Linked DNA regions of Homo sapiens. The protein of the gene in region 1 purifies or fractionates together with the protein of each later gene. This does not show direct contact. Each region holds a gene or a part of one and is shown on either strand. Other genes may lie near its edges.

What was found.
Region 2: the proteins of KIF15 (region 1) and DMD purify together in Homo sapiens (affinity purification with mass spectrometry; one large-scale study listed by BioGRID and IntAct). This does not show direct contact.

What each region holds. Positions count from the first base shown.
Region 1 is NC_000003.12:44,796,235-44,800,062, forward strand, and holds part of KIF15 (kinesin-like protein KIF15), read left to right. Parts: intron 1-1,316; coding exon 1,317-1,442; intron 1,443-1,599; coding exon 1,600-1,722; intron 1,723-2,960; exon of another isoform or gene 2,961-3,054; coding exon of another isoform or gene 3,055-3,057; intron 3,058-3,828. UniProt on the Homo sapiens protein: Plus-end directed kinesin-like motor enzyme involved in mitotic spindle assembly.
Region 2 is NC_000023.11:32,340,378-32,344,205, reverse strand, and holds part of DMD (dystrophin), read left to right. Parts: intron 1-919; coding exon 920-1,072; intron 1,073-1,355; coding exon of another isoform or gene 1,356-1,364; exon of another isoform or gene 1,365-1,839; intron 1,840-1,923; coding exon 1,924-2,106; intron 2,107-3,828. UniProt on the Homo sapiens protein: Anchors the extracellular matrix to the cytoskeleton via F-actin. Ligand for dystroglycan.

The DNA.
Region 1 (3,828 bases):
CTGTAATCCTAGCACCTGGGAGGCTGAGGTGGGAGGATCCCTCGAACCCAGGAGGTCGAGATTGCAGTGAGCTGTGATTGTGCCACTGTGCTCCAACCTGGGTGACAGAGTGAGACTCTGTGTCAAAAAAAGCATATGCTTATAATAGGACATATACCAAGTCTGTTCTAAAATGCTTTACATATATTAATTCATTTAACCTTCCCAACAACTCTGGGAAGTAGGTGCTATTCTTTCTATTTTACAGTTAAAGAAACCGAAGTCACACAGCTAATAAAGGTAGAGCTGAGATTCAAACCGAGCTGCTACAGTACTCTCAACCATGCCACTAACCACCTTTCTGATTTACTGAATGATAACAGCAGTGACTCTGAATTCAGTACATCTTGCATTATAATTTTGACTTTTTCTCTTTTTTGTATACTCCTTCCACTGCAGACCCAGTTTTCAAAATATGCTACCTACAGTAAAAATCTAATGTAACGTATTTAGCTCATTTTTTCCCCCCACCAAGCTTCTGTTTTAAAGTAGTTTTTATTATCCTTTACAGAATTAAACTGAATATTCTCCTCAAATAAGTTCATCAGTGGCTTTGGGGGCTGTATGGGTGAGTTATTAGGCATTATACCCTTAAATATTTTAGCATAAAAGGATTGAAAAAAGTACCTATTAATGCACTACTCTAGCTTTTTTTTCCCTATTTTTTTCTGGTCTTTATAGCTCGGTTTCAAACTATTACAATCATGAAGTGACATTAATATTTTTTTTCTTTGCATGATTTTTGTGTTTGTCTTTTTTTGTTGTTGTTTTTGAGAGAGGGTCTCACTCTGTCACCCAGGTTGTAGTGCAATGGCACAATCTCAGCTCACTGCAACCTCCACCTCCCAAGCTCAAGTGATCCTCCCACCTCAGCCTCCCAAGTAGCTGGGACTACAGGCATGTGCCACCATGCCCAGCAGTTTTTTGTATTTCTTTGTAGAGATGGGGTTTTGCCATGTTGCCCAGGCTGGTATCCAACTCCTGAGCTCAAGCAACCTGCCCACCTCGGCCTCCCAAAGTGCTGGGATGACTAGCATGAGCCACAGTGCCAGCCTGTGTTTGTCTTCTAATACTAAAATTACAGTGTACATCAAATAGGAAAAGGTTAGGGATAGTTCAGCACTTCTTTTTTATTTGTTGAATAGTTGTTCTTTATTAACATTGTCCCTGACTTGCCTTTTCATCCAGAATTTTCCTCTGCTAGATATATTTTCATTCAAAATACCAAAGAGTAACCAACGTACCTAAATTTTTGTTCTTTTCCGTCAACACTTTAGGAAGCAGGTAACATAAATCGATCATTGAGCTGCCTGGGCCAAGTGATTACAGCACTTGTCGACGTGGGTAATGGAAAACAGAGACATGTTTGCTACAGAGACTCCAAACTTACCTTCTTACTACGGGTAAAGTAGATCCTTGGGTTCCTGGGCTCCTTTTGGTTATGCTAAAGTTGATAGTGGGACAGTCTCTCAGCCTTGGTGGCAAGAGTATACATTTTCTTTGCTTAAAAAGGTCTTGTGATTTCTCACCGAAAATATGTTCATTCCTATCATTAAACAGGATTCCCTTGGAGGTAATGCCAAAACAGCCATAATTGCAAATGTTCATCCTGGATCCAGGTGTTTTGGGGAAACCCTATCAACACTTAACTTTGCTCAAAGAGCCAAGCTGATTAAAAACAAGGTAAAATACTGGCGTATACTTCATTAAATAAATGAGAAAAATACTAAAGCTTACAGTATGCCATTTTTGTGATTGCCCTAATATTAACATTAACTTTTATTTATTTCTCATTGTATGCAAAATTTCTATTTTATCTTTCCTACCCTTCTATATCACACATGTAATTAGAGACCTAGGTTAGATCTTATGGTTGTTATTGCTTGACTAGTTTTTTCTTTTTTTTTGAGACACAGTCTTGCTGTGTCACCCAGGCTGGAGTGCAGTGGTGCAAACACAGCTCACTCTAGCCTCAACTTCCTGGGCTCAAGCGATCCTCCTGCCTCAGCCTCCTGTGTAGCTGGAACTACAGGCATGCAGCACCATGCCAGGCTAATTTTTTTATTTTTTTAATTTTTATTTTATTTATTTTTTATTTATTTATTTTTTTGAGACAGAGTCTTGCTCTGTCACCCAGGCTAGAGTGCAGTGGTGCGATCTCTGCTCAGCTGGGACTACAGGCGCCCACCACCACGCCCGGCTAATTTTTTGTATTTTTTAGTAGAGACGGGATTTCACCGTGTTAGCCAGGATGATCTCGATCTCCTGACCTCGTGATCCGTCTGCCTTGGCCTTAATTTTTTTATTTTTTGTACAGGTAGGATCTCACTTTGTTGCCCAGGCTCGTCTCAAACTCCTAGGTTCAAGCAGTCCTCCTGCCTCATCCTTTCAAAGTGCTGGGATTACAGGTGTGAACCACTGTACCCAGCTGACAAATTTTTTCTTAAGGGAAAGCAAATTAAGTATGTGAGTCTTTCTTCCTGCCAACAGCCAATCAATCAGTTCTGCAGCAGACATCAGCTGAGTGTCTTCTGATTCAGTTCCATCCTGACACTTTATGTCTGGAGATAGGGTGAGATCTCACAGGTTCAGGGCTCAGTCCTACAAGACTGCGCCCAACTTCTGATGCCAATTGCAAGCCCCAGCTTGTCCTATCTGTGCTTTCAGACCAACTGGCTGTAAATCAGGAGGTCCATGTTGCCCCTTTCCCTGGGTAAATCAGAAGACTATAGATCTAGTCATTTATTTTATTTCCTTGGACTATGGAGTACTAGTAAGATGAGGAGGAAAAATCATTAGAGCTTCCTGACCCTAAGTCTCTTAAGATTTACTAGAAGTCTTTGGAGATATAGAACTGCAGCAATAATTAGAATTATGAAGTCACTGATGGGACAGTGATGTCAGAAGTGCAGTAGTACCTTGTAATGAGGCTGGCCATAAGAATCAGAAGCAACTGGAAATGGCTGCTTAACACACAAAAGAACAAAACCAAGAGCCTTCTACTAGTCACTCTCAATGGTAAGCCCTTTGCAGCCTATCAGTGGAAAGTGCCAGAGTATCTGGGACTTGTTTAAGGATGTGCTATTTAAATTTTTCCGTGAGCAAATTGGGCTTACAGCGAGAATACAGAAGACCTTGGGGCTGTCACAGGGTGTTTTTTCCTTGCTGGAGTACTGAGTATTTCACAACTGAGTCCTCTGACCTGGTTGGTACTCAGCTGTTGGCACTCGTTATCACCCTTTAGGCTTTGTGGACCTTTTTAAAGCTTTATTTTTTTAATTAATCAACTTTTTTTTTTTTTTTGAGATAGAGTCTCGCTCTGTCAACAGGCTGGAGTGCAGTGGCGCACATGTGTGACCTGCCCCACTCTTGACATCCTGCCCCACAGTGGCACATTTTGTTTGTGAGTCCTTTAGCCTTTTAGAAGTTGTCCTAAATAAGACATTTCTTTAAGAAAATGAAGATAATCATTTAGTGTGGTAAAAAATTAAAAAAAAAAAAAAAAAGGAAGTGTCAAACCAACCCCTCCTTCCAAGAGGGCTGTTAAAAAATAAAGGTCGGATTCCTCTGGAGAAGGTTGCTTCTGCCAAGCTCAAGCCCACCCTGCAAGTCATCATGCACTTAGAGGCTAGGCTCCTTCCCCGTAGGGAGCTAGGAAAGAAGGGAAATGATACTCACTGAGGTATTGGCTCTTCTCCATTGGGAGGGTGGGGGAAGGCTGTCGTTCTCAGGGAAAGAAGTATTAGGTGAACACACCCGGATCCTAAGGGTGACCCAGCCTAAAAGCTC
Region 2 (3,828 bases), on another chromosome or scaffold:
CTACTTTCTGTAGAAATGAAAGCTGCATGCAGAGCTTATGTTCCCATGAATTATAAAATGGCATTTTGAGTAATTCTATTAATCACAGAAGATATTGAGTGTGCTTGTAAAGAGCATGATGACTGATTTCCTCCCATTGTTGATTTATTAAATTAGTCTTATCACATTGATTTGAAAGCATGCACTTGCTGTTTTCTTTTTTCAAATAGTTAATTGTTTTGCATTTAGAGCATGATTTGGTATAGTAAGATAAATGTGGCTATGCAAGCCTTGGAAGGAGAAGCATTTATCTCACATAATTTTTTATTAGTTATGTTCACCAATATACGAACAGTGGTGACACTTCTACACATACAGCTTGGAACAGTTTATAAGACAACTAAAATGGCTTTATATTTCTAATCATAAAATATTAATGGCCTATGAAACTCTTATGTAGGCATTTCTAAAAACATGAATGTATATTGGTTGAGTACATAAAGTTTTGTTGATGAGCCCCAAGGCTAAAGATATACATTTTAGAATTTTACCTATTTTAAGTCAGATACAAACTCACTAGGTTTGTGAGTTTGTATCTAGTTAAGTCAATTGTATTCGTATATTAAACTCTTGCACATAAACTACACAACAGTTAGCTCATTAAGAGTCAATTGAATGTGACAAAATTTTTAAGCAAGTTTGAACATGCTAAGAGAAAATACTTTAAGTGTGTTATTCAGGTTTCTTAGCTTCCTATACATGGGTCCCGCCTCATGCATAGGCAATTTAATTATGTCTTTGTATATTTTGCATTTAAATATGATTTTAACCTAAGTTGTACAAAAAGATGAGGGACGCAAATTATTTTGATAAATAACTGCAGCCAGAAGTGCACTATACATATATATTGATATTTTAATAATGTCTGCACCATGAACAGGATTTGAGGTCTCAAAGAAGAAAAAAGGCTCTAGAAATTTCTCATCAGTGGTATCAGTACAAGAGGCAGGCTGATGATCTCCTGAAATGCTTGGATGACATTGAAAAAAAATTAGCCAGCCTACCTGAGCCCAGAGATGAAAGGAAAATAAAGGTAATGTTGTTTTAGAATGTCAATACCAGATTTTATTATACAGTTTAATTAACCTGTGAAGATCATATTTAAAATGTTGATGTTCTTGTTTCTATTAACGTTCTCTTTGATTTGATGCATTTCCTTGTATTGTGTGTTGTTTTCAGTAAATGTATTGTATTAAGTGTTATTCAATTGACGTAATGTTGAATGAATAAAATGTTTTAGACTATGTAAAGTGATTTAAGAAATGTGATGTGTTTTCTGGTAAAATTGTAATTGACTTTGTGTATCTTTGTTCCAGATGAACTAATGACTTATCGGTATATGGACGACTTCTTACTCATGTTAGCCCATTCATTTCATCAGAGCATCTTCACACATCAGTGTTCACTCTCTATAGATTTATTTGCATATTGTCTAAATATGTTTTTTTCTGTTATTATTTTACACTTTTTATTTTGCTTCATTCTCTGTTGAGTTCCTCAAACCTTTAAAAAGGAAATAAATAACTTATTCACTTACCCTCTAAATTATATTCTATGTGGACGGTCCCTAATAAATAATGAGTTATCACTCCAAATTGTTTCAAATCCCAAGACACCAGAGGAATTTAGAAGAAAGAAAATGTTAGACCAATTTCAATATTTACTTAATTAGAATATCTAAAACCAAGCATTCAAAGGATAACTGAAATAATATTTGGGTTATTGAGCGAGGATGACAGTCATGCCTTTCATATTTGTAAACTTCAAAGGATGACAATAAAGGGACAACAGCCTTTGAAATTTTGAGAGAAGTATTTGCTGCTTGCAAGTCGGTTGATGTGGTTAGCTAACTGCCCTGGGCCCTGTATTGGTTTTGCTCAATAGGAAATTGATCGGGAATTGCAGAAGAAGAAAGAGGAGCTGAATGCAGTGCGTAGGCAAGCTGAGGGCTTGTCTGAGGATGGGGCCGCAATGGCAGTGGAGCCAACTCAGATCCAGCTCAGCAAGCGCTGGCGGGAAATTGAGAGCAAATTTGCTCAGTTTCGAAGACTCAACTTTGCACAAATTGTGAGTTGTTACTGGCAAACCCACGTATGTGTTTGCAACTACTACTCTATTAACAGAGGCCTACTAATAAAAAAAAAAGAGACAAAAAATCTGGGTACAGTTTTAAACTTCTAATGTACATTCTGAAAGTGAGTGGTTTCCCTCACTTTGGGCTTCTGTAACACTAGTGCTTAATTTTGCCAATTAAAGACACAAGAAATTAACAGATAACAGGGAAAACCCCTTATCAAAAATGAAAATACATCTTAATTTTTTTTGCTACATCATTTTTCATAACATTGGCAATGTTAATTTGTCAATTTATCATACATTCACTTTACTTCAATGTCTAATCCAAAAAATATGTATTGCTTTCCTGAGATCATCCCATGCTGATTTTACTTTCTTAATGTATACATGATAAATAATAAATATTTCATGGTACATCTTATGTCAACCTGCATAAGCCATTATCTCATTGACTTGAAGAATAATAGCTTAATCCTCACACCTGGTTTAACTACTTAATGGGTTACAGTGCCCATAAAAGAACTGGATGCCTAGTAAGATGGTTGCTAATTGATTGCAGATTGAACAATATCAGATAATGTTATTACTGAAATGTTACCAGCCAAAACAAAAAGGAGTGACTGCTCTTCTTTCAAACAACTGAATGGAAAGTGTATGGTTCTCTCTTTAAAAAGGCGATTCAGAATTGTTAGCTTGGTCTCACTTCTTTATTTGTAGTAGGTATAAACCATAGAGGTTTTCTGACAGGTACATTTTTGTTCCTATTATTAACACTTGTAAGATGAAGAGGAATGATCATCATCTGTAATTATAGAAGAAAGTACTCCTCACAAAACCAGGATGTCAAAATCTGGAAACTAAGTCTTTATAGTTAAGTTAGGTTGAATTATATGAATCAAACAGATACTCAACCATTTTGCCCTATGTAAATAATAACTGCATAGGGTTCAGCCCATGTATGAGACTTCTTGGGAACTTCTTCTGTGATAGTGTCAGTTCCATTTAATTTGGTGTATATTTTTAAAATGTCAAAAGCAGTTACCATAACTTAATTTTATAAGCATATAAGGGAAGTATGTTGCATATTATTGTGACTTCTTTTAATACTTCAAGAAAATTAATAAATACACTGTTTTCTGTTAAATCTAATACCCTAAAGTTTAATAGCAGGTGAATTATTCTGAGCAATTGGAAGAATACGAGAAATAGCGAAACTGTATTGCATGTGAAGTCTAATTCCACCTGGCTGAATGTTTCAGCCTATTATCCTTCATATTAGATGTTATGAATGTAATGTGTCATAAATAACCTTACACTAACCAGCAAGCCTGTGTCTGCAGATGCAAAATGAAGCGAAAGATTAAGGCAATCAAAAAGAAAATTCTAATAAAATAGTTTCACCTCAATTTAATAGATCATTCAAGGGGGAGTCCTTTGCTTTGAATTATCTGACTACTAACTCATTTCTCCATTCCAATTTTCCCCAGGTCTTGACACACCCAATATGCAGGTTTAAAATTCGTTACAAACTAATCAAGTTGCTAATGCTTTATGGCTAAATAGGCACAGGATCAAAAATCTCCATAAACCACTTACTTAAAATGCCATTATGTCCCTATTCATAGTAGGCTCTCAACAAATATTTGTACAACGTAATAATGACTGGTGAAATAAAGGAAGCATGTGTGAACCAGTATATATTTTTAAAAAATT